Linked DNA regions of Homo sapiens: all the other regions are reported to be linked to region 1. The links are microRNA targets in miRTarBase. Many come from high-throughput screens and were not tested one by one. Region 1 holds a microRNA gene; each other region holds the end of a gene's coding sequence.

The links. The annotated mature microRNA hsa-miR-182-5p reads UUUGGCAAUGGUAGAACUCACACU and lies in region 1 at 1,960-1,983, shown strand. An mRNA with a match to its seed (bases 2 to 7 or 8) in the 3' UTR can be bound and repressed. Matches are read on the target gene's strand: a 7mer-m8 pairs with bases 2 to 8, a 7mer-A1 pairs with bases 2 to 7 and ends in A, and an 8mer does both.
Region 2: miRTarBase lists RBM15B as a target of hsa-miR-182-5p. Seed matches in the 3' UTR shown: 7mer-m8 at 4,026-4,032.
Region 3: the mRNA of MITF is a reported target of hsa-miR-182-5p. Seed matches in the 3' UTR shown: 8mer at 1,227-1,234, 7mer-A1 at 1,069-1,075 and 8mer at 1,010-1,017.
Region 4: the mRNA of SIN3B is a reported target of hsa-miR-182-5p. Seed matches in the 3' UTR shown: 7mer-A1 at 3,405-3,411 and 7mer-A1 at 3,291-3,297.
Region 5: the mRNA of TMEM182 is a reported target of hsa-miR-182-5p. Seed matches in the 3' UTR shown: 7mer-m8 at 1,607-1,613 and 8mer at 897-904.
Region 6: miRTarBase lists VPS51 as a target of hsa-miR-182-5p. The part of its 3' UTR that is shown has no 7-base or 8-base seed match.
Region 7: miRTarBase lists FOXF2 as a target of hsa-miR-182-5p. Seed matches in the 3' UTR shown: 7mer-A1 at 1,371-1,377 and 8mer at 1,574-1,581.

What each region holds. Positions count from the first base shown.
Region 1 is chr7:129,768,330-129,772,429 of GRCh38, reverse strand. It overlaps MIR182 (microRNA 182), which reads left to right and starts at 1,938; the gene lies at 1,938-2,047. It overlaps LOC105375501 (a long non-coding RNA gene), which reads left to right and starts at 3,225. Exons shown (of 3, transcript XR_927963.4): 1 at 3,225-3,742. RefSeq lists an enhancer at 924-1,787.
Region 2 is chr3:51,393,460-51,397,559 of GRCh38, forward strand. RBM15B (RNA binding motif protein 15B) reads left to right here. Exons shown (of 1, transcript NM_013286.5): 1 at 1-4,100. The coding sequence ends at 613. It also overlaps a transcript of DCAF1 not described here. Among named protein-coding and RNA genes, the nearest start is that of RBM15B, 4.2 kb to the left of the region's middle. RefSeq lists an enhancer at 1-348.
Region 3 is chr3:69,964,861-69,968,960 of GRCh38, reverse strand. It overlaps MITF (melanocyte inducing transcription factor), which reads right to left. Exons shown (of 10, transcript NM_001354604.2): 10 at 629-4,100. The coding sequence ends at 3,713. Among named protein-coding and RNA genes, the nearest start is that of SAMMSON, 33 kb to the left of the region's middle.
Region 4 is chr19:16,878,222-16,882,321 of GRCh38, reverse strand. It overlaps SIN3B (SIN3 transcription regulator family member B), which reads right to left. Exons shown (of 19, transcript NM_001297595.2): 18 at 3,932-4,100; 19 at 1,973-3,825. The coding sequence ends at 3,595. Among named protein-coding and RNA genes, the nearest start is that of F2RL3, 8.7 kb to the left of the region's middle.
Region 5 is chr2:102,814,019-102,818,118 of GRCh38, reverse strand. TMEM182 (transmembrane protein 182) reads right to left here. Exons shown (of 5, transcript NM_144632.5): 5 at 440-3,371. The coding sequence ends at 3,151. Among named protein-coding and RNA genes, the nearest start is that of TMEM182, 54 kb to the right of the region's middle.
Region 6 is chr11:65,109,896-65,113,995 of GRCh38, forward strand. VPS51 (VPS51 subunit of GARP complex) reads left to right here. Exons shown (of 10, transcript NM_013265.4): 7 at 1-28; 8 at 587-708; 9 at 799-886; 10 at 1,432-1,967. The coding sequence ends at 1,692. It overlaps TM7SF2 (transmembrane 7 superfamily member 2), which reads left to right and starts at 1,977. Exons shown (of 10, transcript NM_003273.6): 1 at 1,977-2,172; 2 at 2,620-2,816; 3 at 2,916-2,970; 4 at 3,325-3,519; 5 at 3,596-3,699. The coding sequence starts at 2,121. RefSeq lists enhancers at 232-1,159, 1,160-2,085, 1,782-2,076, 1,999-2,108, 2,179-2,228 and silencers at 918-1,093, 2,359-2,788.
Region 7 is chr6:1,393,974-1,398,073 of GRCh38, forward strand. It overlaps FOXF2 (forkhead box F2), which reads left to right. Exons shown (of 2, transcript NM_001452.2): 2 at 723-1,630. The coding sequence ends at 886. Among named protein-coding and RNA genes, the nearest start is that of MIR6720, 5.6 kb to the left of the region's middle.

The DNA of each region.
Region 1 (4,100 bases):
AATGGTGTCCAGTGTCAGGCAGGAACGCTGTCCCACTGCAGCGAAGGCCTTTCTTGCTGGAGCGGGAGGGTCACTGAGAAGCACTTTTTGCTTTGTTTTTCTGTTTGTCAAAAGCAGCGGCTCCCAGATGCCCGGGTTTAGGGCGTCCCCCATGTCGGGCACCTTGCTTGGCCTGTCTGGGTGCGTGGAGCGGCAGGAGGGGCAGCTCCCTGGAGGGCTGTATGAGTGGGTTTTCCAGACTCCCCGCCTCCCCCACCACTCCATTTGCTTATTCATTCCAGGCCATTATCCCAGCCTCTGCCCAGCCTCAGGCGGGTCGAAATGCGATCCGGCACCATTGATCGCCTGCAGCCCCAGGCTGCCGATGGAGCCCGGCTGGTGCGGCCACAGCTGGGTGGGGAGGAGGACAGGACCCCCCACATACACACTGGAGGAGGGTGGGAGTGGCCTCCTCAGCAAGTCCCAGGCTTGGGGGCTCCATGGGACCAAGAGAGCCCAGTGCTGCTGATGTCCCAAAGCAGGCCCGCCCACCCTCGGAGAGGCTTCCAGAGTCGTGCCTCTGCTCAGAGGCCAAACCTTCCCCACCAAGCCTCTCCTTTCGGGCAGAGGTGTCCTCCCCAGCGCCCAAGCCCAGGCTGCCGGTCCGGTCTGGGTGCCACCGAGGTCCTGGACTTGGCCCTGGGGATGGCCTGGATCTGTTTGCATCTTAAGCCATCATCCCATCTCACTCCACCCTAAAGGGCAGGCAGGATGGGAGGGGTGGTGGCGGTGGCGGCGGCAGCGGTGTCATTTTGGGGGCCCTGCCAAGTCAGCTGCTCCCCCAGCCGGGGCATGTTCGGAAAATGAGCCTGCTCATGGTGGGCCCATACTGCCCAGGAGGCTTGAGGGCAAAGAGTCCCTTCCAGGCTGCAGGGGAGGCATGGGGATGCAGGGTTGGGGGCAGGCAGCCTGCACCCTTGCTAAAGGCTTGAGATGCCTTCAGGACACTTCAACACCCCTTGGGAAAGGACCTGGCCTCATCAGGGGAAGTGGGAACACGGAAGTGTGCTGCCCTTGGGTAAGTGACTGGCGGTCTGGGGAAATGCCACTCCGAGAATCAGATCGCAGCCAGCCCTCAAAGGGTCTGGGTGTGTGCAGGGCTGCTGGGTGTGTGCAGTGGGTTCTGTGGTCAGGAGAGTGCCGTCTGGATGGGAGATATTTGGTTGGTTTTAGCTTGGCCCATTCCTGCCACTGACTGATGGCCCCAGAGGCTGCCTGTTCCCGTTCCTGGGTAGAAGGTCCCAGCGCCATTGTTTGTCCACTGCTTTTAGGGAAGAGGCCTTGGCAAGTGGAATGCTCTTCCTCCCTTGGACTTGATAGGGAGGAGGAATGTTTTGTGTAGCAACTTCCCTCTCTCCCTTTGGGGTGGGCAGCCTGTGAGCTTTAGGCTCTAGGGAATGGCTTGGGAGCATCTCTCTGGATTAAATGGAGCAGTGACGTGGGCTTAGTAAATAGCAAAACCCAGCCCACATTAGCCATCTCTTCCCCAGCGCCCAGGGGCAGGGCTCTCTGGCCTGGCTTGTGCTGGTTCCCAGAGTCCCTGCTGTCAGGTGCTGGGAGTGGAGGTGCCCTCGGGTTCCCTTGGGAGTGGTGACCACAGCTCAGGGCCTGGGTTGGATCCTGGTGGCTGCCCTAGGGATGGTGTCTGCTCCATGCCTGCCCACAGGAACTGCAGGTTACAGATATGAGGGGAAGGGAGGAGAGGAGGGGGCTGAGGAGGGACCGGGACCAGCAGGAAGGGGGACTGTGGGGTTGGGCCTCCACACCAGGGCGACCCTGCAGGAAGGACCTTGTCGCAGTTGCGGGGATGGGCGCCTCTGTCCTGGCCCTGCCTGGACCATCCTAACTGTCTCTGTCTCTTCCTCAGCACAGACCGAGGCCTCCCCAGCTCCTGGGGGGAGCTGCTTGCCTCCCCCCGTTTTTGGCAATGGTAGAACTCACACTGGTGAGGTAACAGGATCCGGTGGTTCTAGACTTGCCAACTATGGGGCGAGGACTCAGCCGGCACCCTGTGCACAGCCAGCGAGGGAAGGGCCGGCCATGCTGGACCTGCTGTTCTCCGCGAGGAAGGAGGGGACTCAGGTCCCGGACTGCTGGGTAGTGGCAGAGGGCAGGTGCAGCTGGAAGTGACACTCTGTGTTTCCCTGCATCCCCCTGAGGTCACAGGTCCTCAAGTCAGCTGGGAAGCCGTTCTCTGGCCCTCAGGGGTGCTGCCAAGAGGAGCTGGGGTCCAGCTCTGCTCCAGGCTGTGGCCCTGGAGTCTGAATCGAGGAGTGAGGGAACTGGGGGATGTTTGGTTTCAGGGCTTTGGCCTGGCTCCTCTGGGTGGTGAACCTTCTCACCCTCTCCCCTGAAAGGCCCTGTTCAGGGTGGGCTCTAGGGCCCCGAGGGAGGGTCTCCTAACCTTCCACAGGTCACTAAGAGTGGTTCCTTCCTGGGCTGCTGGCTGGGAGGATGAGGGCAGGGAGGGCACGCCGTGCATCACGGACATCCAGTGATCCTGCTGAGGCCATGGAGGGCCAGATGGGATAAGCCTCCAGAGATGTGCAGGAGGAGAGTGTACAAGTCACTTGTGTAAATGCGGGACTGGCCCCCTGGGGTGCAGGTGGCCCATGGGCTGGACCTCTATGCCTCCAGCATTCCACTTCATGGATTTGTTCCTCCTGACGCCTCAGAACCTGAGACAAAGCCTCCACTCACCTTCCCAGAGCTTGTGTTTGCAGTGGGAGCTCCCCTGAGCCGGAGCCGGGCCACAGGGTCAGAGTGAGTGGCACTTCCCAGAGAGTTGGGCTTGGTGGGCAGACCTGCTGGGGAAGCCCGGCCCTGGAGTCTCCTGGCCTGCAGATGGCTCAGGAGCCAGAGTGGGAGCTGCGCGTGTGGTTGAGAGGGTGTGGGTGCAGGTGTAAGTGTGTGTGTGAGTGTGGCCTAGCCCGCAGTGAACGGTGCAAATGCAAATGTGAAGGCCTATCCCCTGCTCCCCAGCCCTCGGCCTGCCAGCCTTCCTTCTCTGGTGCTCCCCATCCCCCAAACCCCTTCTATCAGCCCCCATCAGCCCTCCTTTCTCCTCACCTGCCCTCGGAGGGTCATGTGTGGTTCCATGACCCACCAACCCCTGTGGCTGGGCAGGGCGGGGCAGACATCTATCTGGTGGCTCCAGGCTCAACCGGCTCCGTGCAGCTCACTGCGCTCTTTTGGGGAGACACAGGCCGAGTAGGGAAGGTCTGAGCCGGCAGCTCTTGAGACAGAAAGAGAAGGGAACTGTTCTCCCGCAGGCTGCACTATGCATGTTACATGCCGTGAGCACAAGCAGACGCTGCGTAAACAGGCTGGCTCTGCAGGGCATGAAGAAGGCTGCTCTGAGCTAGGGCCACACGGCACCTGCTGGGACACAGGGAGGGGTGGGGAGTCCTGGAAGATGAGTGACCCTCAGGGAGAGGAGGAGACTCCTGTTGGAGAGCACACAGATTTCCTGGGGTCTATGCCGGGCTGGAAGGCTGGCCATCTTAAGGCTGCATTTGTTCCCGAACCTAAGGACCATGGGAGCCACGCAGCCAGAGGGGGTGTGATCAGATGTGTGTTCTGGTTGGATGGCTCTTGTGGCTGTGTGCAGAATGAAAGGAGGAGTTGGACTTGGCCATTAAGTCCACGATGGCAGAGGAAGCAGGTGCCATGGGAGAAGGACCTTGGATACATGCCCAGGAAGGTGAGTAGGGGTCTGCCAGAGACCAGGGCCTGAAACGGCTCTGCTCTCTGTTCTTTTTTTTTTTTTTTTTTGAGACTTGAGTCTTGCTCTGTCGCCCAGGCTGGAGTGCAGTGGCGCCATCTCGGCTCACTGCAAACCCCGCCTCCCGGGTTCACGCCATTGTCCTGCTTCAGCCTCCTGAGTAGCTGGGACTACAGGCGCCCACCACCACGCCTGGCTAATTTTTTGTATTTTTAGTAGAGACGGGGGTTTCACCGTGTTAGCCAGGATGGTCTCGATCTCCTGACCTCGTGATCTGCCCGCCTTGGTCTCCCAAAGTGCTGGGATTACAGGCATGAGCCACTGCGCCCGGCCTGCT
Region 2 (4,100 bases), not on the chromosome of region 1:
TCACCGGACCACAGAGGCCGAGCCCAAGCCTCTGGAAGAGCCAAAACACGAGACCAAAAAGCTGAAGAATCTTTCAGAGTACGCTCAGACACTACAGCTGGGTTGGAATGGGCTTCTGGTGTTGAAAAACAGCTGCTTCCCCACGTCTATGCATATCCTAGAGGGGGACCAGGGGGTGATCAGCAGTCTCCTCAAAGACCACACTTCTGGGAGCAAGCTGACCCAGCTGAAGATCGCCCAGCGCCTTCGACTGGACCAGCCCAAGCTTGACGAGGTCACACGACGCATCAAGCAGGGGAGCCCCAACGGCTATGCGGTCCTCTTAGCCACCCAGGCAACCCCCAGTGGGCTTGGCACTGAGGGGATGCCCACAGTAGAGCCCGGTCTGCAGAGGCGGCTTCTCAGGAACCTGGTCTCCTACTTGAAACAGAAGCAGGCCGCAGGGGTGATCAGCTTGCCAGTGGGGGGGTCCAAGGGCAGAGACGGCACAGGCATGCTCTACGCCTTCCCACCCTGCGACTTTTCCCAGCAGTACCTCCAGTCAGCACTAAGGACATTGGGCAAGCTAGAAGAAGAACACATGGTGATAGTCATCGTCAGAGACACTGCCTAGCCCAAGCCTGTCTTTCCCAGCGTCATGTTTGTGTCACAAAAGCAGTTATTTTAAAATCTGATCCCCTCTCTACCCTACCACTTTGGTTTGAATTATCTCCTGGGTTATTTTGGTTCATTTGGGTGGGGATCAAAGTCCTGTCCACCACCAAAACTAAGTTCTTAGATTTTGGGGGATTTTTTTTTTTAAACGATGAGAAGGGAATCCGGTTATGTTGATTTCTAGTGTACAAGATACTGTCTGCTGTGGTTCTGTATTTTTTTATTTTTTGACCAACTGTATGGAAAGTTGTCAGTAAAACCTTTGACAGAGGATGGATTTTTAAACCTGTTCAGAGTCCTGGTTTAATCAATCAAGCTAAAAGAATCGAAGACATCCCTAGTGCATGTACACGAATGCCCTACGTCATCCTTCCAGCACCACTGCTGCATGGGTCACTCTCGGCCTCTCAATTCTTCAGGCTCAGTCTGGACTCTACTTACACTCATTTTTATCTTGGCTGACAGCAGGCAAGCTTCAGTTTGGGCTGTGGACGCTGCCACACAAGCCTGAGTAGAGCCCATGCAAAGGAAGGGATGGGGTGAGCGCAAGGCCTGTGGTCAGCAGCTACTGATGGTTTTTTCTGCCTTAAACCGTGTGTGTGTCCATCATCATCAGTTTGAGCTGTGGCTGTTTGTTTGGGACAGAGTGCCCACTCAGCATGTTTGGCAGCAGGTAGCCTTCAGCAGCTGTGTAGTCTTGTACAAGGAGAAGCTGTGCACTGTTGATGCCAGGGGGTCTCGGGGCCCCTGATCTGTCCAGGCTCCTGGTTCGGCCTACTTTCTAGCCTCACTCAGCCCAGGGATAGCCAGTGTTGGGAGACAGAGTTGCCTCAGGTTCCCAGGGGCCCGGGAGTCCAAATACTGGAATGGAGGGTTGGAGGCAGCCTTCCTTGGATTTACTCATGAACTTTGCCTAGTTGTTTGTGATTTTTGGCTTTCTCTGGTCGTTCAGGGGTGATGGGTAATAGAGCAGGCCCGTGTCCAGTCATACCTAGAGATTTGTGGGGGGATACTGAACCTCTAGACTGAAGTACTTACCGGGGAGCACAGTGGACTAGGGGATGCCCTTGATAATGACGGTTTCCTAGGTGCAAGATCAGAGCATGTGCCTACACCTTGTGCCCTGATGCCGAGGTGGAGACCATTGGGAAATAATTAATAGATATTTTTCTGGGGGGAAATCACAAGTCACTGAGGTGTTTGTTTGTTTGTTAGGCAGTGCTAGAGCTTGAAGCCACTCAAGCCAGTTGGGGAGGAAAGGGATGCGGAGGTACCCTCTAGCTGGGAAGAAGGGTGAGATTCCGTCTTCTTCCCTGTCTCAAGTAAGTAAGGAAGGTACTGCGGACAGTGTGGGCCAGGGAGGAAAACCAGAGCACACAGTTTTGTCACCATGGAACACCCCAAATGCCATTCTTCAGCGTGTCTGGTACCTTGGATGTTCAAACAGGGAACACTGTCAGGGCTGAGGAGAACAGAAGCTCTGGTAAGCGAATGAGCCCCTAGATGATAACCAGGAACTCCAGGTTCTGCTGGCCGTGGCATCCTCTCTCCAGGTCTGCTCCCTTACCGGAGCTAGGATAAGGTAGCATGAGTGACACCTGAGATTAGAGGCTGGGGCTCACTGCAGGCTGTGGAGAGGTCATGCTGGTCCACAGGAACACTTGGCAGTGCTCTCGTAGACCCCTCGGTGATGTGGAATGGACAGGTGCCTCGCAAGAGAGCAAGCACGTTCATAACAAAACAGCAACACAAAGACATGTTAAGCATGTTTATTTATTTGCCTGTTTTTGTTTTTTTACTTGAGCTGTGGTCACAGCTGCCAGGTACCTAAGCAAGTCAGTTGGGTACAGCAGGACACGCCACCATTCCAGGGTAGCTGGTACCGCCAGAAACAGGAGTGGGTCTTGTCCTGTTGCAGGCACACTGCAGTGGTTTTCCTGCAGCTCTCCAACAAACGCCTGAGTCACAGGCCAGAGCTGCCTTGGTATGTTGTTAAGTCCAAAACTTCTTCTCTGGGCTACCTATCTTCCTTCATGAAGCAGGTGCTCAGGACCCGGAAGAATCATCTACCTCCCAGCTTTGTGAGACAGAACCAAGTAAAAGGAAACATGCTAGAAAACGTGCCTAGAGAAGACACTTCAACCTTTGCCTTATCCAACCCCTCTTCAGAGAAAGGTGTCCCATGGCCCCAAAAAGAACTGCCAAGTTTTGGTGAGGAGTAACACCCTGGCATGACATTCCTTCTCTTTCCTGGCCCTCAACCACTTCCTTCCTTTGGCTCTTAAGACCTAGCAGGTTCTGTGAACTCTCAGGCCTTGGCCAGCACTAGTTAGGGGAGGTCAGGTGGTCAATGTCCTGGTGATTTTATGAGACTGCCCCACTGAGAAAACTTACTTACTTCAGGCATCCAGTGCCCCCACCCAGGGTTCAGGCCCTGTCTAAGGTGTTGCTTAAAGACAAAAAGGCAACATGTGCCTCACTGGTGGTGTGCCACTGTTCTCATGCTGCCTCCTAAGTGACTCCGATTTTCAGCCCTGGTAGAATAAGGAAGACAGCTGATGCCTCCTTAGCCCCTTAGCACATGTTCCTAAGGTGTGTTGTCAAGCCAACCTGAATTCTGCCTCCCTGTTATAGTCCCTGTCTCCCCCACAGAGACCTGTGGGTGCTCCCAGCAGAGTTGAGACTGGCTCCGTTGAGTTAATGACTAGAATATAGTGCTTTCACTACTTGATTGTTAACCTGTTTTCTTCTGATGCCATCAGTACCAGCAGTCAGACTATTCCACTGGTTAAGTGTTTACTACCATTAAAGCGAGGCATGAAGCAAAGAGCTGAGTGAGTCCTCTGCTCTCCAGAGGACCAAGAAATACCTGTGTGACACAGACCCACTTCAGTGTGTACAGCAAATTCTATAGTGCTTCTGAGCCCAGCAGGGCTTTACCTGCCCCTGGAGAGTTTTAGCCGTCTTGTGTTTCTTGTTTACTTCACAACCAAATTTGTCCCCTCTTCTCTCTGTTAAGGGAGAGAAGTCACTTTAGCTGGATAATACCTATGTAACAAACTGAGCAGCTGTTATTTGGGCAAAATCAAAGGAAGAAAGAGACTATGGTCTTCTATTTATTGTGGGAAGGAAAACAGGGTGGGGCGGGTGAGTGAAAAGGTGGAAATCCCTGGTACCTTGCCTGGTGGTTACACAGTTTAACCATAGGCCAATTTTAGGGGCCTCTGAAGTATCTTTCTACAAACGCAGACAAGCTCCACTACCCCTAACCTGCCAGGATGCTCAAGTCCACTGTCACAATCCCTTTCAGAAAACATTAGTGGCCGCTGCCCCAGCTACAGAGACGGCCGAAATGCTTTCACTCCTTAGCTTTGCCAACTCCATCCTCCAAAACTTCCCAGAATACCTCCCTTTCCAGTTCTACCAAATCTGTACTTGGGAGCAGC
Region 3 (4,100 bases), not on the chromosome of region 1:
GCATTACAGGAAGTTTCTTGCTCATTTTCTCCAGAGGTTAAGCCAGAATATATTTTTTAAAAGGGCAGAAGTTTAAGGTCTAGCTAGGGAATAAAGACATGTTTTGTCTGACACTTCCCAATTCAAATCCAACATTTATCAAATGATTCTTAAGTAGTGTATTAAAAAAAAAAGGCAACCAGGAGCTGGCAGCCTGGGTATATTAAGCTTTCATTATTGTAAATTTGTATTTTAAAAACCCAATATCTTTTCTGTAAATATGCAAGGGTTTCTCTGACAATTTCTCTTTTTTAAAGCCACCTCTCAATGAAACATTTTAAATAAAACTCCTATATCTAAAATGAAGTCTTGGCATTTGGGAGTTTAAAATCTCCCCAAATTCAGAGGGGGATAAAAAAGGTGCATAATTACACCTCATCTGAGTGTAAGTCAAAAAGTAATCAAAAATGTTTAAAACCAAAAAGTAACATCTTAGAGTGGCATTTTAAACAAAAAAAGTACTTACTGGCATTTTCTAAATTTTCATGCAATTTGTTATTCATTAAATCAGAAGAAAATGTGCACTACCATTTTTTGATATGGCAGATAGCATTCAAAATTGGCATTAACACAATAGGCCACCACTATGTGAAAAACCAAATGCTTTAATGAGGCTATCAAGAACAAGTCGATTATTTCATTGGATACATTAATATCGATCCATAATATACAGTGCTATGGACCATACAGAAATTATTGCTGCATCCAACAGCAGGTGACTATTATTAACATTACAGTACCAAGCATCCGCAAGAGACAGTCATTTGTCATTTTTTATCAAGAAATAGGGCTGTTTTATACTGTTATTGACATCAACTTTTTCCCAGTGCATTTTTCAAAAATATTAATAAGTTCATTCCTTTGTGCTTTTAACTTCCTATGTATTGTATTTGTTCTTATTGCTTTATTGTTTAAAAACAACCAGAAAGAATTTTGTCATCCTATGTATGACCAGGTTGCTTGTATGCTTTTTGGCAAAGTCAGAAGGTTTGGTATTTCCATTGCCCTACTCAGAGGCAGATGGACAATTTTGGCATTTTGGTCACTCCATATAGAGGCCCAACCCCGAGTTACAATTCTGCACCCGGGAATCGGGGGAGTGGTGTGGATCATTTTCTTGTTACAAACAACAAGCCCAAACCACTGCCTCTTGGCTTAGCTAGCCCCTGAAATGAATCCACACTCTATTTGGCAAAAAAGAAATAAATAAAACCACCCCCAAGATTGCAGCATTCTCCTGGGCTTGCTCACCTGCCACCTGCAGAAATTGTCTCTTAAGGAGAAGGGGAGGGGGAGGCAGGCAATGGCAAGGTTAGGAGTTGTGACAGTCAGGGCAGTGGTACAAGATGCCATACTTTCTTTCAACAAAGCTTTCTATATGGTTGCTTAACCATGGTCCTGTTCCCGTGGCCGTAGGTTAGTCAACCTTGCTTTATTTTTAAAAACCCTCAAAATCAGCTAAGGAAAACTAACATCATAGCATCACGATCTTCAACTTTTGCATCCAGCGCCCTCCCCCCCATATAAATATGAAGAGAAAAATAGACAATGCTATGATTGTATCAATGAACACTATGGTACAATTAGCTGTTCATGCAGATTTGCGTCACTATTCTAGGAAAAGAGCTATACAGTTAAGGGGGTTGAAAGAATGGGAACTAATTTTCCCTACCCCCTTAAGAAATAAAGCTATAAAACTGATAGCATCACCAATGTTTCCAAGGATTCTCATTGCCCAGCGTGCATGGGAACTATGCAGTTGATTATTTTCACCTAAACCGTCCATTCACACATCTGACGATCACTCCTCTCTGAACCCTCCATCACCCATCACCAATTCACATTTGACATTTAAACACTTTTTAAAAACCCTCCTGAATAAGGTTTCCTGATGAAAGAAGTTGGCACTCTGTCACTAAAATATATTTAATATTAAAAATATCTGAAGGAAAATTGGAAGCTCTTATATTGTCTACATAGGCACCATGCTACATGTTCGTCTTGACTATAGATACCATCATGAAACTTTCCCCTACATTACAGTTCAGTCAGTGCTAGTCCAAAAAAGACTACTGCTATATTTAAGGCACTTCATTCTGAATGGATATGCTTTATGCCACTTGCTATTCAGTTGTAGGCTGCTACTGAGAAATTCCATTCAACAGCCTGGCTCATAACACTATATGGCATCTGTATAAAACATCTAGGCTTGATACATGTAACACTACTGTTATTGCATAGGACTACACAAGTAGATAATGCACTGAAACTAACTTTATAACATTGCTTCTTGTTAAAACATTGTTATCAAGTAACAGTAACTTCCCAATACAGTATTTCTTTCTTAAAAATAAATTCAACAAGTTTGCTGAAATAAACCCCAATTTAAATGACCATAATGGGCGTATTAATGCTATGGTTATCAATCTCCAAGAATATTGCTATTTTCATGTCCTAAAAATAAATATGTAAGTTTATTCTTTCTAGAAAGCCTGGTTTTAACCTATTAATACTACACCTTAAATGTGTCCAAAAACAGTTCTGAGTGAGACTGTAATTTACAAAATATTCGCAAAGCTGTCTTTTAAATGCAAGACCTTGCATAAAAGTTTTCTTTCATGGGTGTACAAAGAATGCGGAAAACCACCAGTGAGTTGTAAAAATATGGAAAACTTGCCATTTTAAGATGCATATTCTTACAAATTAATACAAATATATTGAAAAGAACAATGATAATAAAGAATCTGTACAAATCAAATGAACAGTAAAACATAATTTAAAAATAAAAATAGTAAAGCCAATTAGAAATATGCCCAGTTCGGTTTTCTTATCAAAAGCAAAAATAAAATAAAAAAAAAGTAAAACATACTTTCAGTGCTCCTCAATATTTTACTTTGAGAGGACATTAATTTCCATTTCAAAATAAAATATCTTATGAAAAACTGGATCACACTCATTGATGAAGAAAACTGTAACAGCACAGAATAAAAGAGAGCAAGATTAGACTTTATATTTCAGAGCCTTGGTCTAACTCCCTTCAGTTTCGGTTGGTATCAGTTATGTTTTCTAACCAGACGATCCTCATGAAAAGGCCGCATTTTTTTTTTCTTTTACAGAATACATATTTCTTTAAATAGTTTGCAGTATAAAGACTAAACAAAGCTAGAGGGGTACTGTATCTTTAAGGCAGTACCAATGAATCAATACATTTATAAAATGGAAAAGGGTTAGTATGGATTTCTTTTCCTCTTTCTTTCTTTTTTTTTTTCTTTTTGGTTGCTTTACATTCTTTCAATTAAACTTTACATTTGATTTCCAAGGAAGTCACAGGCATAAAAATCTCAAATCAAGTTTCCCCTGAATAAAAATGGACAGACATTTCTCTGACGCAAAATCCTCTTGCTCAGAAAGCTAAAGTCTGTGGTGAATTCAGTTCACAGATACTGCACACTTATTTGTACAATACTTTGGAGGCATTTGTAGTTGTAAAATAGAATATACAAGTCTGTTTCACAAAATTCTAAAAATAAAATATATCCTGGGCTATTGATAAAGCATGAAAAAAAATTTCATATTAAAGGAAAATTATCAAGAAAACCCCTTCAGGTAAGTTATTAAATCTACGAATCAAGAAAGGAAGCAGTTTGTGCGAATGCAGTGCAGGGAGGATTCGCTAACAAGTGTGCTCCGTCTCTTCCATGCTCATACTGCTCCTCCGGCTGCTTGTTTTGGAAGCTCCGGGGGACACTGAGGAAAGGAGTGGATCAGTGACACCGACGGGAGAAAGGGTGTCGTCCATCAGGATGTCTTCCAGTTTGGATCCCATTTTTGTGGGGACACTATAGGCTTGGTTGGCCTCAGTCCCAGTTCCGAGGTTGTTGTTGAAGGTGATGGTGCCATCCGTGAGATCGAGAGTTGTTGTACAGGTTAGGTCTGCATGATGCTGAAGGAGGTCTTGGCTGCAGTTCTCAAGAACGGGTTCTTGCTTGATGATCCGATTCACCAAATCTGGAGAGCAGAGACCCGTGGATGGAATAAGGGAAAGTCCATGAGCTCGAGCC
Region 4 (4,100 bases), not on the chromosome of region 1:
GACCCACTGGACTCAACGTCTAAAAACTGGGCCTAGAATAAAGACAGCACTTGACTTAAACACACTTTTAAAAAGGGGTGGGTTAGCTTGAAGCAGGCTTACAGTGGCGTGAAAGCAGGGATACAGAGGCAGGACAAAGACAGTTAATCAAATTATAACAGGCTCATAACTCAGGATTAGACATGACCGTTGCTGTGCAACTCAGATGGCCATTATGTAGGTTTGCCCTAGTGCTTAGCATGGCTTATTCCATGGCCATCACTATGGCACCCAGGTGGCTCTATCTCAGGCTGCTCAGACAGTTTATGACCTTCACTCCACTGCTGATAAAACAGAATATTTGAAGTCACTAGGTGTAGAGAGCAGGAATCTATAAACTCATACCATGAAACAAAGGAAAATTTGTTTTTCTTCTCCCTATGTTGAGGGAGTGCTGGGAGAGGCTCCAGAGCACATTCCTTTGTGTCTTGGCTTCTTAGTATTATTAAGACTTTTCCTGGGTCTGGGCTGTGCCTGTTGCTGCCTCTGAGACAAGTCAGCCTAATACAGGAAAAGCTTAATTCTCTTTTTAATTTTTTCTTTTTTCTTTCATTTCCCCCCTCAGTAGGGGTTCCTGAGACCCTCAGCCACCTCCCCGTACTTGACGGAGGTGGAAGGGGAGGTGCTGGACATGCAGCGGCTTTATTAATGCTGCTGTATCTATCTCTGGATAATGAATGTGGCTCACAGCCACACGCCTCTATGACCTTTTGTTTCCGTGGGTCAGGGGTCCAGCCTGGGAGGCTGGGTCTTTGGTTCAGGGTCAAATGAGGCTGAGATCAAGGTGTCAGCTGGGCTGTGTCCTTATCTGCTGCTCGGGGGCCTTTTCTGGGCCCAAGTGGACTTGGGCAGAATTTGGGTCCTGGTGGTAGTGGTGGCTCTGAGGTCCCCCTTGGCTCTTGGAGGCCACTCTCTGTCCCTTGCCACAGGGTCCCCTCCCCAGCACAGCGGAGACATCTTCAGGGCCAGTGAGGAACCTCTCTCAACTCATGTCATATCACCTCATCAAGGCCATGGGCCCTACTTGAGGGCAGGGGACCCCTCAGGGCAGGGCCACCTCGGAGATCTGCTCTTTGTCTGCTCTCCTGGGACCAGCACAGCCTTTCCCAGCCCCTGCAGCACTTCTGACCAAGGAAAGCCAGTCTGGGGGCCCACAGAGGACCCTGGGCATCCCCAGCCATGGGATCAAGGCAGAAGGAAACAGGGCGGCCTCCGGTCTGGCTTGCCACGCTCCCTGGGAGCCCTGACCCTCCGGTGGGGGTGTGGTCAGAACTGCCAGAGACGCTTGGGTGTACAGGGAGCACATGGGTCACTGGGAGGAAGCTATGGCCCCTCCCCTACAGAGGATGGAGGAGCCCATACTGAGGGGGAGGGGCTGGCCACTTCTGCCTTGGAACCCTCCAGGTATGTCAGCCAGGGGACACAGCAGAGCTGGGGCTTCTGCTACCCGGAAGCAGGTGTGGAGCTTGGGATGCAGACAGGGGGCAGGAGATGAGGAGAAAATGATGGTGAAAGCCAGGAAGTGGGTGGGGCCCCAAGGAGTACAGAGGGTGGTCGTGTGGGGTGGGTGGGCAGGCATGGGCCTGGACGGATAGGTTGGGCATGGGAAGCTTAGAACAAACACCTTAGAGCAAACACCATGATCTTTAAATTGGGTTCTGCATGAGAGACACTCGGGCGAAGGAGACGCTTCTAATTCCCACTAAATGTGCAAATGGAATGGGGAAAGAATATTCTAGAAGACACTCCCATGTCGTGGCGGGGCAGGTGCAGGGTGTGAGATGATCTTGGTTCAAGGAGGGGCTTCGACTCCCCTGGTCCCAGGTAGGCACACCCAGCCACCCCTTGCTCTCATGGGTCCAGCCCACTGACCTGGTGGCAGGAAGTCAGCAAGGCTCTCACAGGAAGACCAACACACCCTCACGGCTTGATGTCAATATTCAATTATTAACTTTAATGTGCAAATAAATAGAAAAGGAAAACTACATTCAAAACAGCTGCAAAGGAAGGACAAGCCCCAGAACAGAAATTCCTCAAGAACGGAAAAGAGGCGCTCCCTAGAAGCATGCGGGGATGGGAATACTGGGAGGAGGGGCTCGGCGGGGTCTCCGGCTGCACCCGGGGCCCAGGTGGCTCTGCCCGAGACGGCCGTGGGCCTGGTACAGGAATCTTGATGGCAAGTTCCCTTCTTAGAAAACCAGGATGTGTACAAAGTGCCTGTGTGACACTTGGGGAGCGGGGGTGGGGAGCCCAGGAGGACGGGTCAGCATCGGAATCGCCCAGCCTGGAGTCAAAGGCATCAGGAGCCTCCAGGTTCCACAGGAAACTTCTAGAAACACATCTCCACTTCCTGGAAACTTGAGTCCAGCTGTTGCAGGATGGCAAGGGTGGCGGTTATTCTGGGCCTACTGGTGTGCAGGGGCCAGGGCCAGGGGCTCTCATGGTCGGGGAGAGAGGCCTGGAGAAGTGGTCCCCAGCCCCAGTCACTTGGGATTCTTGGCACAGAAAGCCTTGGATGCCTCCATGGGACAGTCGCCTCAGCCCCTCACAAAAGGACAACAATGATCCCTGGAGTGGCCGCGTGGGTCCCAGGGTGGGTGGGCGGATGGGGCTCCTTGGGTGGCGGCTGGGACTGTCAGGGCGGCTCTCGGAGTTCCACAAAGGGAGATCTCAGCCCCAGGGAGCCGCAGGACTTGGCTGCTACAGAAATAACAACCACTAAAAGCGAAAGGAATAAATATCTGTGCGTGTATACACATACGCCTAGGGTGCCCACTGCAGGAACACGACTGGGCCCGCCGCCCCACAGCAGGGTCGTGCCGGCTCTGAGGGAATACTGGCTGGGGTCCCTCCCCTTGTGGGCCCAGAGTCCAGCTGCTGGAGTTGGGGTTGGGTGTCTTATCCAGAGCGGGGTCTCCCAGGGCACTGCCCGCCTGCTCCAGCTCTGGACTTCAAAATGGGATCCCAAAGGTTTGGCTGAAGGGTTCTTCTCACTTCCAAAGTGACTGAGGGCCTGAACACCAGCCAGGCAGAGCTGATGCCCAAACCCTCAGATGATGTTTCTGGCAGCTCTGAGAATATTCTGGAAGGACTCACTTTTCAAGCAAGCCTACCCAGGGCTCAACTCCTTCCTTGTCAGGGTCTCTTGGACATGGACCCCCTCCAAAGTGTGGGCCTCAGGAGGGCTGTCACCTGTGACTTTTCCAAGACACGGCAAGAATATGGGGCAGGAGCCATCTGCCTGCCAGGGATTTGGCACATGTGACGGACGGGGACGCAAACATGATTGCTTGTTCCTCGGCCAGCACGTCCACCCGCCCCTGTGGTGGGGCTGAGCCCCAGGGCTCGGGTGCAGGTAGCTCAGGTTTGGCACACAGCAGGCCCACAGGAGACCGGGAGCCACGGGGGCGGCGTCCTGCCCTGGAGTGCGCTGTCCGGCAGCAGAGGGGCTGGGAGATGCCTCTCACGTCGTTCAAGAAAACGGCCCCGACACGACCAAGGCCGAGGGCACGTCTGTGCTCTGTGAGGCGCCTGCCCGGTGCCCATGAGGGCGGGTCAGGGCGAGGCCGGGCGGCGGCTGTACTGCACGCGGTAGCGGGTCACGGGCAGGCCGTGCACGTGCACTGTCTCACACAGCGTCTTGCAGGGTACCATGTCCTCGTCCTCCTCACCCATCAGCCAGTCCTGCACCAGGCTAGCCGCCTCCACCGTCACATTGTCCTCCAGCCAGCGGCTGTGCCACTCCTCAAAGTGCTGGTGGTGGCGGAGCAGGACCAGGGGCTGCACCTGTTGAAGAGGCCGGGTGTCAGGGCAGCTGAGGGCTGGACCCCCAGGGCCCCAGGACTTGGGGTGAGGAGGGGCATGTCGGGGCAGCCCAGGCCTCCCCTGGCACCTGCTTGGCCCGGCAGAGGGTCCCGCGACGGTACATGTAGTCCTCGGAGTTCACGATGAACACCATCTTGTGAGTGCTGAGCTTGAAGCGGCAGTCCACGTCGCAGGCGCTCTCCACGCCCACCAGCCGCTTCCAGGAGCTCCTGGCCTCACCGCGCAGGGCCCGCGCC
Region 5 (4,100 bases), not on the chromosome of region 1:
TTCTTCAATGTAACCCCATCACCATTGGTCTTTCTCACAATTCCACCGACCTTCAGACATATCCAGCCAATTTTACTGGTATCCAATATCTGCCTAACACCTCTGACATTCTAAGTCTCTTTGTAAGTCCAACATGGTTACTTTTAAGAAAATAGAAATCAAATTACGTGTTGAACTGAATAAACCACCATCCATTGAGTGAAACAGTTAAAGTGGCACTCAGGGAAACAACAATAATAGATTGCTGTTCCCAAAGATAACTGATTTTTTTTTAACTTGCTTAGCTCAAATATATTGATTTATACCATTCAATGTATCTCTTTCTACCCAAACATATAATACACATGCACACTTACATACACACAAATATACACAGACATGCACCCATATATATTGATGATAGACAGATAAATAGATGAATAATTACCAACACTGACACTTCCTCCAATATATTCCTTTATAATTCCATTTAATCTTCAAATTTAATAAATATATTTATAGATTAGTAATAAAAATGACTAAATGAATACTAACAACACACTTGATATTACTTTTTTTAGAAAGCCCTACCATCAACCCTCAAATTGTACACGATCATTAAACTTCTCTGTGTAGTCTCTCCAGCCAATTCCAATGTATGTGCAATCATCCACCTGAGTGAATTAAACCAGCTGAACAAATACAATATGGAGAGATGATAGCTTTCACCAAGTCCAAGAGCATAACTCACTGCCCTTTTTATTCACTCTTTCTAAAAGTGTAACTGAAAAGATATCCTTGATAAATTGAAACTTTATGATGCAAAATCAACATTTTTCAAAAAGATTCTAACACAGTTTAAAGGCTTCTAAAAATTAATAAATACAACCAATAGAGAAATAAACATAACATGGACATTTGGCAACACAGTATCTCAAATCAGATATAAGGTTGCTACAATAATGTACTATATAACTCTGCCATTTTTAAGTATATTTCACTCATTGACATAGCAATCACAACTCTCCTTCATTCCTTCAGAGGGTTGCTGGTAAATTGATCAAGAAATGTGCTTGAAATGTATTTGATTGATGCATTACAACTATAAAATAGTTCCAAAGTGCAAATCTGTGTAAAAGTGTCATACACATCAGCTATTCAGCCAATTGTCATATAAAAAATATATGGTAGCCACTTAAGTGTACTATAAAGTGAGGATAACCATCTGAAATTTATAAATATTCAAGCCTTTGCCGAAAGCAGCTTGTATGTGAAACTTAAATGGCATACAGTACACCAGAAAAAGGCTCCATTCCAAAGTACTACAAAAAAGAATTGTATTTACAGATGACATGAACTAATCAGATACATCCAACATCGTCTGGAAAACTTAATGGCATGCCATAACTTAATATCACAGTCAACATGCACAACAGACCTCATAATTATTTTTTCTAATAACAAAGCCAAAAGCAAAGAAGTAAATGAAGCAATATAAAAATGAAACAGTGAAAGACAAAGGGAAGTACCACAAAAACGTTTCAATGATATCACTGAAATGACTTGAGAAACCAGTTAGGCCTCTGGAGCTTTATTATTATTATTATTATTATTATTATTATTATTATTGGCAAGTCCTGTCATGAAAATGCCCTGAAGATTCAGACCTTTGCAATTTTTCCAAAGCTCCTTCCCACTGGAACAAGTCTTAATGGAAAAGCACAAGATGTACAGAGAAGACTGGGATCACCTCTCCCACGGCATTGGAAGAGCTGATGAAAAGGAGCAGTTCCTCTATCCCAGAGCATCTTCTGGGTGGTGACTTTTTTTGCCTGTGGGCCATGCCTCTCTGTCCTCACAACAGCTGCAGAATGAAACACCGCACCTCCAACAAAGCTCACATACCCTGCCGAGCTCCCCTGCGATGGAGGCTTCCAGAATGCAAATACGAGCTAGGCATCTCAGATGGATTTGATTTCAATCAACATTAGTGCCAAATGAACATCTTTGATATGCAAAATGTCTATGCTACTGAATAATACAGAATCATCTTTCCCCACAAAAACTTTCTTCTAGGAGGTTAAAGGAAATAGTCGATCTGTAAATGTTAATATATCTATTGTAAAGATGAAGAAATTGAGGGACAGTAATTAAAGGAATCAAATGATCAGAAGAACTGGAACCCATAACATCTTGGGGAAAGTTAATATTTTATGGTCTTTAATAAAGCAGGGCTATTATAATCCTCATATGGAAGTACGTTGAAAGTTTATATCTAAAAAATATTAAAATCACATTTTATCAATAAATTTTCACATGCTGAATGATAGCAATATAATTTTTAAATGAGAATTTTAAAATATCAAATAGAATTATGGACCAAGCGGAAATGCTTGGTTTTTACATATTTTAAACAATATTACATTATACAATTAACTCACTTTAAGTTCATAAAAATTCAATCTACGTTATACATAATTTGGTATGCAGATTTGCTAGTTTTAAATGTAGTTTAAAGTTTATGTAAGCATGCACAATTAAGTGAATAAAACTAGGTAACCAAACCACTGTTGGTGAAAAAGCAAGATAAGTACATGCTCTCAGTCTTGTTTGTTGTGGCCCATTTTAACTGGTGAGTACATGGCTCCCACTAATTAGAACAACTGCTGTCTATTTTTAAATTCATTTGCTCACAAGAGCCAGTGAATGTGTATGTGGATATTATCTGTGTGGGCAAGAAACAAAATAAATTCTCTGACAACCTTGCCCATTCTTAATTATTCTTCAAGGATTTTTTTTAATTAGCAGAAGTGAATGCCAAGGAGACTTTAAGCCAAATCTATCGAGATTTTCCCCATGTCATGGTATTAAGCTATTATCAGGCCTTTGCGACCTGCATGAACTCTAACATGTTCAATGAAAGGGAGACCTGTTTACCTATTCCCTAAAGAACTAGGTCCTTGACAGCACTTAGACAAGATAGAGGCTTGCTGGTGTCTGGAGAGATTCTAGGACCTTCTTACTGAAGAAAATTTTAGTAAAATGATTAATTTGAATAGCAACTAAAAAGTTATATCTACTAACTTTATGCTGGGATCAATGAAACAAAATGGAAAAAAAGTATTCCTTGTTTTAAAATCTCTCAAGAAAATACTTGTGGCAACAGTTGATTTAGTGATGTATCTGAATATGCCATCCAACAACCAGAAATAGTAATCCAGCTAGCAAAGAAAAAAATATCCCAGCTGGGGCCAGGAAAAATGACCAGCCATACAGAACAGAAGGGGTGAAATCCAGGCAGTCCTTCATTTTCATGTTTCGGTAGCTTTCCATGTCAGCCACTGCCTGGACCCAGATGACATACAGCATCACCACCAATGAAAATAGGATGCCTGAGAAGGATGAAACAGAAGACTGTTAGCCTTTCTGAAGATGTTTTCTCAAGAACGCTATCTAAACCAATCATTGACCGGATGACAAGCTCCTGCAAATACATTTCTAGCAAAATCAAATACTCTACGTCAGACCTTTTATTATGTACTTTATAGATATTTCTTTTATCTTTCATCTTCAAAGCATTGAGAGGAGGGCTATAGTAGCCTAAGAACAGCAATCACTGACAGGTATTTATTGAGTGTTTCCTGGGTGCCAAGGACTGTAGTAAGTGCTTGTGAACATTAGTGAATATCTCAGCACTTGTAGAATTTATATTCTAACTTTTTTTTTTCTTTTTTACTGCACAAATGGTTTGGGATGAGCACTATACTATGTTATTTCTTTCAATACATAGAATAAACATTGAAATAGGTACACTTACCACCTGGTTTTAGATATACACAGACACAGACAGTGGTTTTCAGAGCTGATTTTCAGCCCGGGTCTTTCTGACTCTTGTTATACTATTATAACCCAGCTAACTAATGCTGCAATTAAATATGGTTATACAAATAGAAACCAAAGTAAGCACTAGACAAGAACGGAGATGAAAACACTGAACAAACATAAAAGAATATACGTGATTCTTCAGAATCTAAATATATATATATATATATACACACTAAAGATTGATTACAGCATAGAGAAAACATTGTCTTGAATAAATGAGGGAGGAAGATTGATGA
Region 6 (4,100 bases), not on the chromosome of region 1:
GGAGGATACCACCGCCATCGACGTGCAGGTGCTGCCCAGGCTGGCCGGGGTAGCCCTGACGCAGGCTGGGGGTACTGTCCCTTCAAGAGGGGCTGGGGCAGCAGAGGATCACTGGCAGTCCCTGCCTGGAGGAGGGGACATGTGTATCTGGGCTTCTCACGGGGCCAGTTCTGTAGCCAGGGCGTCCGTGAGGGAACCCCAGGGGAACAAGTCTCCAAGGATGAAGACCAAACGGGCTGGGGAGTGCCTATGTCCACGGTCTTGTTCCTTCTCAGCCCAGGATTATGACATCTTCGCCCCTATTTTACCTGTGGAGAAGCAGAGGCTCAGGGTTACCCAGGAAGTCAGGGCAGGGTTGGTGCTGGTGCTGAAGATTAGACCTCAGACCAACTCTTGTATCCTGCCTTTGCCCCACTCCACTGGTTCTATAAATAGCGACCATGTACCTACTAAATAGCGGGCCCCGCGGTGATTACCCTGTGATCCTTGTGATGCTTGAGTAGCTGACTTAGGGCATCCTCAGCACCGATGGGCTGGTGGTTTCCCCTGACTCGGGCCTCCTTGCAGTACCTCTTTTTACCACCAGGTGGGGCTCCTGTACGAAGAGGGTGTTCGCAAGGCCCAGAGCAGCGACTCCAGCAAGAGGACTTTCTCCGTGTACAGCAGCTCTCGGCAGCAGGGCCGCTACGCCCCCAGCTATACCCCCAGGTCTGGCTGGTCAGGGGAGCCCCAGGGGGAAGGGACAAAAGAGGGCGAGGGTGCAGGGCGGGCTCTGATTCCTTGTCTTCCCCAATCCAGTGCCCCGATGGACACCAACCTCTTGAGCAATATCCAGAAGCTATTCTCTGAACGTATTGATGTGTTCAGCCCTGTGGAGTTCAACAAGGTCCGACTTCCAACGTGACTCAGACTTCCAGGGATCCCGGGGAGGGTTGGCTGGAGCAGCCCCACACCTGCCCAAGGAGCCCCAGGACTCTGTGACCAACTGGGGGTGACCCTGACCCTCCAGTCTCTGTCTCTAGGGCTGTTTTTAGGTAGTACAGAGTGCCCTGCCTCCAAATCCCACAGCCCTTGTCCCAGTCTTGGTGTATGCCCAGCCTGAGTCTGGGTGCTGACCTGGGATTACTGTTTGCCCTTGTCCTTATCCCCACAGTAGTCTTGGGTCCTCCCCAGGGTTTTCTGTTCACCCATGGTCCCTGCCCCGCCTCACTCCAAGCTCAGGGATGCCTCTGATTGCTGGGCCCTACCTGTCCCCTGCCCTCCAGATGACGGCGCTAATATTGTATCCCTCCCTTCTTATCTGGCCCCGGAGACTTTCTGCCTCATCCCAGCTACTTCCATCGTATGTCTCCCGGGCCCCTGCTTGGAACTTGGGTGTCCCCCACACACACCTGCAGTCCCCAAGCTGCATCCCTGTGTCCCTGCCTGCAGGTGTCGGTGCTGACCGGCATCATCAAGATCAGCCTGAAGACGCTGCTGGAGTGTGTGCGGCTGCGCACCTTTGGGCGCTTCGGGCTGCAGCAGGTGCAAGTGGACTGCCACTTTCTGCAGCTCTACCTGTGGCGTTTTGTGGCCGACGAAGAACTCGTGCACTTGCTGCTGGACGAAGTGGTGGCCTCTGCTGCCCTGCGCTGCCCAGACCCTGTGCCCATGGAGCCCAGTGTGGTTGAGGTCATCTGCGAGCGCGGCTAGGCGCAGCCGCTGCCATGCACCGGTCTGTCCCTGCACCCCATGGCACCCAGGATCTGGTCTCGGTGGTCCTTCCCCGCAGGCAGGTGTCAGGACCGGCCTAATAAACATGTGTGGCCTCCTCCTCTCGCTTGCTGGGCGGGCCTTTCCGGGGGCGGGGTTTTGAAGCTGAGGCTTCTGAGGCGCCCGCGTCGGGTCCGCCCCCGAGCGCCGATTGGCTGGTGTGCTGGGCCCAGCATGGGCAGGGGGCGGTTCCACTTAAAAACCCTGGGACGAGAGCGGTCCTTGTCTGCGTTCCGTGTCCAGGCAGGTGCAGGCGCCGCGGGGCCGGATCCTCCGCGCGGCCGAGTCCATCTCCTGGGAAATGGGGCGGACAGTGTTTCCTTGACTGACTATTGTGAGCGCCCTCTCTCTCCGGCGGAGCGGAGACCATGGCCCCCACTCAGGGCCCCCGGGCCCCGCTGGAATTCGGAGGGCCCCTGGGTAATGGGGCAGAGAGATGGGACCTGGGGCAAAGGCTAAGCGAAGGAGAGCTGGAGCGGGTGAACTAAGAGCGGGGGCGAGATCTGAGGATGGAAGGCTTTGGGGGTGTCGGAGGCAGAGGGACCCGGGGGTTTGCAGCGAAGGGTGTCTGGAGAGGGAGAGCTGAGGAGGGGCCGGTTCTGGGGGCTGCAGAACGGGGATTTATGGTGTCGACTGGGAGCAGGAGGAGGGTCTTCGAGGGGCCTGGGGGCGGGGGACTAAGATGGACGCCTGGGAAGGGAACTGGGAGGCAGCGGGGTGCCTGGGGGCCGAGGGCTGAGGACGGGGTGCGGAGGCGCACTCTGGGAATGCCGAGAGGGTCCCGCAGAGACGTCAGGGCGCCCGTGCGGGCCGGCGGGGAGCTGGGGGGCTAGGGGCGGACGCCCGACGTGATGGCCCTTCCCGCAGGCGCCGCGGCTCTGCTACTGCTGCTGCCCGCCACCATGTTCCACCTGCTCCTGGCGGCCCGTTCGGGCCCCGCGCGCCTGCTGGGTCCACCCGCGTCCCTGCCGGGGCTGGAGGTGCTGTGGAGCCCACGGGCGCTGCTGCTGTGGCTCGCCTGGCTCGGCCTGCAGGCGGCGCTCTACCTACTGCCGGCGCGCAAGGTGCGGGCCCCGCTCGCGGACGCTCGGGGGAGGGAAGCGAATGGGCTCGGCGAGGGAAAGGACGCCCCGGGCCTTATCAGAGCCCCCTTGGACCCGCAGGTGGCCGAGGGGCAGGAATTGAAGGACAAGAGTCGCCTGCGCTATCCTATTAACGGTGCCTAGGGGACGGGCCCTCGCGCTGGAGTTAAGCGGCCGGGGGTGGAGCTCCAGGCCTAGCGGGGAGGTCCACGGAGATTGGCCCCCACCCCAGGCTCCTTTGTGTGCCTCTGTTACGCCCAGGACAGACGCCGGGGGCTCTCCCTATGCCCCTCGTCCCCACAGCCTTACCCCATTTACTGCTACTCCGTGCACCACAGCAGTGGCTGGGGTGATCCTCTGAAGGCCAGGGTGGCAGCCTAATGCTTGGGGCAGGGTCTGTGGCCCCCCTGAGTTTTGGGCTCTGCGTGTGTTTGCGGGGTGGGGATGTGGAGGCGCGCAGCCCCAGGGCTCACTGTGCGCTGTGGTTCAGGCTTCCAGGCCCTGGTGCTGACAGCCCTGTTGGTGGGGCTGGGGATGTCAGCGGGGCTGCCTCTGGGGGCGCTCCCGGAAATGCTCCTGCCCTTGGCGTTTGTCGCCACCCTCACCGCTTTCATCTTCAGCCTCTTTCTCTACATGAAGGCGCAGGTAGCCCCAGTTTCGGCCCTGGCACCTGGGGGGAACTCAGGTGAGAGGGGTCCTGGGGTGGAGACGGAGGCAGATTGGGGCGTCTGCCTGTACATTCACTCTCCAATATTCTCCAGGCAATCCGATTTACGACTTTTTTCTGGGACGAGAGCTCAACCCTCGTATCTGTTTCTTCGACTTCAAATATTTCTGTGAACTGCGACCCGGCCTCATCGGCTGGGTATGTTGGGCTTGACTGAGCTGGCCTCAGGCCAGGGGGAGGGTTAGGGTGGGTGAGCAGCGCTTGGGCAGGGCAGGGCCAAAACTGTGCAGATGCGAGTCATTAACCATTCATATTCCACAAACATTTGTTCAATCCACCTGTGCCTAGGTACTGGGAGACAAAAATAAAGTTAGAGGCAAAAAAGCATCTTTGCTGCAGAGAGCCTACATTCTGGTGGGAAAGACAGAAAAAAATAAGTAAAATATATACAGCATGTCAGGGATGACGTTAGGAGAGCACGTGCAATTCTCAACAGCAGTCAAGCACAGAATCTATTTCCAGGGAGTGACCGCATGCTGCTTGATGGTCAAGGCAGTGCAGAACCTGAAATTGATCGCTGGGGTTAGCAACCTACCCGT
Region 7 (4,100 bases), not on the chromosome of region 1:
CTGGGGCTACCTCAGGGACTCCTCGCGCTGCCAGATGCTTCGGACCAAAGGGCATTTCTCTGCGCCCTGAAGTCCCGGCTTCTCTAGAGGAAGTCTAAGACGTTCGGGACCCACGAAGATGCCTGCGGAGGGGCAGGAGAAGAGGCGTGCTTTTCTGCCCCATCCCTTCATCTTGCGATTGGGTTGTTTTCTATCGTCCCCTTTGGCACAGGGAGTCCTCTGCGCTCGCTGCTGTGACCGGCCCAGTTAGTTGGGAAACAAGGCTCAGAAAGAAGGCCGCAGTGGTGTTTCTGGGGTAGGGTGCTTGGCCCTCCCTGAAGCCAGGGCTCAGGGCAGCACAGGCCAGGAGCTCTGCCGGGAGAGACCCGGAACCAGAGTCTGGGTCTAGTTGTCCGGTACCTGTGCTCATTCTGAGATTAAAGTGCACGCCCCAGCCTCAGAGAATAAAATTGGAATTCCAGGACATAAGAATCCCCCTCGAGGGGGAACTTGCTCTGTGTTTGTGCGAGCATCAAAACAAAACATAATGATTCCAAAGCAATTCTATGACGTGCAGTTGGTGTGTTTGAGCTACTTCTAAAGCTGGGCTTTCTCTACCAGCTGTCTAGCAATTTACTAAAAGGCACAGCAGCACCTTTTGTACTCTGAGGCAAAATAAGACACCCTGCCATCCACTGGATGACTTTGTTTCTGAAGAGGTTTTTTTTTCTTTCTTCTTTCAGTGGGACTGCCCCGTTACCAGCATCACTCTACTCCAGTGTGTGACAGAAAAGATTTCGTCCTCAACTTCAATGGGATTTCTTCTTTCCATCCCTCAGCTAGCGGGTCGTATTATCACCATCACCACCAGAGCGTCTGTCAGGATATTAAGCCCTGCGTCATGTGAACGGAAAGAGGCCAAGCGATGGCCGCTCTCTCCTCTCCCCTCCTCAGAGGGGGCAGATAGAAACTGGGACGGATTCAAGTCACATGCACGCGGATAGCAGTAAGCCACACACCTGCCACTTAGCCAGAATGCCCAGGATCGCGTTGGTCACTGTTATTTGCCTACTGCTGGAAGAAGGACAACCGCTGGCAAGGTAGCGTTCCCCAATCTGAATACCTGCAGGCTCCCACATGAGGGAGAGGGCAGACTCAGGTGGGAAGATGTGCCATGCGTAAGGCATCAACGTGTATCTGTGGGATCTTCGTTGCCTTCAGTAATCAGGGTGTGAAAAAAGCAGACAAGTTGTGTGTGTGTGTGTGTGTCTAAGAAAACTTGTGTGCTTTTCAAAAAGGCAGTGCTAAGCACAAGATTTCAAGAAAGCCTCTTCTTGTTGCCTAGCTGAGTGGGAGAGTCATTTTCCCCAGACACTACATTTGGATACAGGTGCCAAAGAACATTATTAAGGAATTATTTAGAAACAATGTGTCTAGTTTAAGAAAGTGGTTTTCAGTATTGTGACAATACAACGTTTTTACAAGGTTGTTTTCTACCACCATATTTTAAAGATATTTTTATGACCGTGTATACTCACACTTTGCTTGTATTTTAAAAGGAGGATATATTTGCACTTATGTATACTTTTACAGTTTGCCAAAATATTTTGTTGTAAAATTTTTTTTCAATAAAATGTATATAACAAATAGTTGTTTTAGGGGCTGATTTTCTCTTCGGGCACCCTGAGAGCAATGGATGCCAGTTTCTCCTCCCCGGCAGGCAGCTGTGCAACTCTACCCACACCCCCTCCAGTGGTGTAACTGACATGGTGTGGGGTCTGTGCCTTGAGTAACACAGGCCAGGTTCTGATTGTGAGTCTTCTCAGGAGAAAAACAGTGGAAGAAACGTTTTCTGTTATTTCTTTCTTTACTTCACCCCAGCTTTTTCTGGCAAAACAAAAACCAGAAGGTGAAAGGAACTAGAAAGAAAACCAGGCAAGATACCGACCAGGGTTTGATTTTGAGGAAACCAATTTTGTGCCCCTTCTGTTTTCTTTCCTGTGCCCGGGGAGTGTTCTGCCCTTTGCCCTCTCTCCCTCCCGACTGGCATGGGTTGACAGATGTGGGGCACAGTGGTAAGCCCCCCTCCAGGGTTGGATGCCCAAAGAACAGCACCCTGCTTCTTCCCTTTGCACGTTGCAATTTTGTTATGGGTGGCGGTCACATGCTGTCAGAAATGGGGTTCAGATCTGAAGAATGCAGGGGGATCCCTGAGCTGCAGGGGGCAGGCTCCCAGCAGGGGGTTTAACTTCCTTGGGGAGTTTAATACAGAAGCTGGACTCCCCACACGTTGCTCTGTGGCTGCGGCCTGTCCCACCCTCCAATTCAGAGCCTGGCTGGCCCTGCTCAGCATCGGCACATAGCAAGCCGGTTCAGCCCTTCCTTCCTCCCGGCCTCCTCTCCCCACTCCTCCCTTTTAACCAGGGATTTAACAAGGGAACCCCTCAGCCCCTTTTTCTGTTCCTGCTAGATTTCCCAGTCACCAGTGTTACAGGCAGAGCTGGTGACGCTCCCGATGGAAGAGCAAAATGGGCCAACTAGGCAGGAGGACTGACCTTCTGTCCCAGCAGCCCTTCACCATCACGAGCCATGTTGGGGACAATGGGTCTGAGAGAAGCAGAGAAATTATCTGCTCCAATCATGCTGTGCATTTTCCTCTCCAATTCAGGGCTGGAGTTTTGTTTTTGTTTTTTGCTTTTTCTTTCTTGATTGGAAAACTCACCTTTGTTTCTTATCCCTTAAAAGGTCTTTCTCCCAGTCAGTCACCAGACTCTTGGTATTCGTAGGGAACTGTTTCACACCCCAGGGTTTTTGTATTCTAAGTGAATTTCACTGCAAAGAGCGTCTCCTGAGTGAAACATCTTGTTTCCGAAAGTCTTAACCATCTTTCTAATCTTTAGGTTTCCTTCCTATATCTTCTAAAATTAAGAAGTGATTTAAACATTTTTTGTCTCTCCATTATCATATTTGCAGTTAAATAAGGCCTTTTTATTTTCTTTTATAGTGAGCTACTCGGGGGCCTGCTATAAATTATGAAGTCAGTTTCAGAGTTTGCTCCGACCACAGTGCTGTGTTTACATTCCTTCCGAGGCAGCCGGCATGGTCGTAATTTATATCCTAAACACTTGAACGTAACTTGTTTATACAGAGAATGACAGGACCTCAAAGACGAAAACTGCGTCTGCCTGCCTGGCCGCATTGGGAGGCCCAGCGCGCCCCCTGGTGGCGCGAGGAGATCCGCCCAAGGCGACTCAATGATTCCTTCAAGCTGCGCAAGAACTTGACAAAATGACCCGTTTTGTGGTGCCTTCCAATAGAGACATTTTTAAGTATCTCACTTTCATAAGTTATGGTTTCCAGTTTTAGGAAATACTTTGCTTTCTTCTTTCTTCTTCTTCCTTTTTTTTTTTTTTTTTGAGACAGGGTCGTGGTCTGTTGCCCAGGCTGGAGTGCAATGGCACGATCTCAGCTCACTGCAGCCTCCACCGCCTGGACTCAAGTGATCCTCCCGCCTCAGCCTCCTGAGTAGCTGGGACCACAGGCACGCACCACCATGCCTGGCTAATTTTTTAATTTTTGTAGAGACGGGGTCTTGCCTCGTTGCCCAGGCGTGGGCTTTTTTCTATTTTACTCTTTTCGCCTACTGTCTCATCCTGAAACCAGATCACAATTCAGTAAGAACAGGCCTGACCATGCTCAGCAGATGCTAAAGCCCTGACTTGCTACGTATATTCTTCATTTCTACATTTCTCCCCAAATAAGGCTGTTGTTTTGTTTCCTTTTGAGTCAAAATTGTTTCTCTCCTAACTGTCCCTCAAAGACACACACGTACACATAGACTCATTTATATTCACCCTTTTTTTTTTTTTTTTGGAGAAACATGCAGTGCTTGGCTTTAAAAGTTGCTCAAATGTTAGTGATTAAATTGAAAAAAAGTGCTACACCTTTATAAGTGAAAATAAATGAACTAACTCAACTAGGGATAAATACCTCAACTGTTTTTTCGTCAAATGGATTTTGAACTTAGGTTTTCTGCTCATTGGCGGAATAAAGTGGTATATTAAAAGATTTTATTGTTTTCTATAATAATTATTGTTTTTTGTTGGTTTCATTGGAGCTGT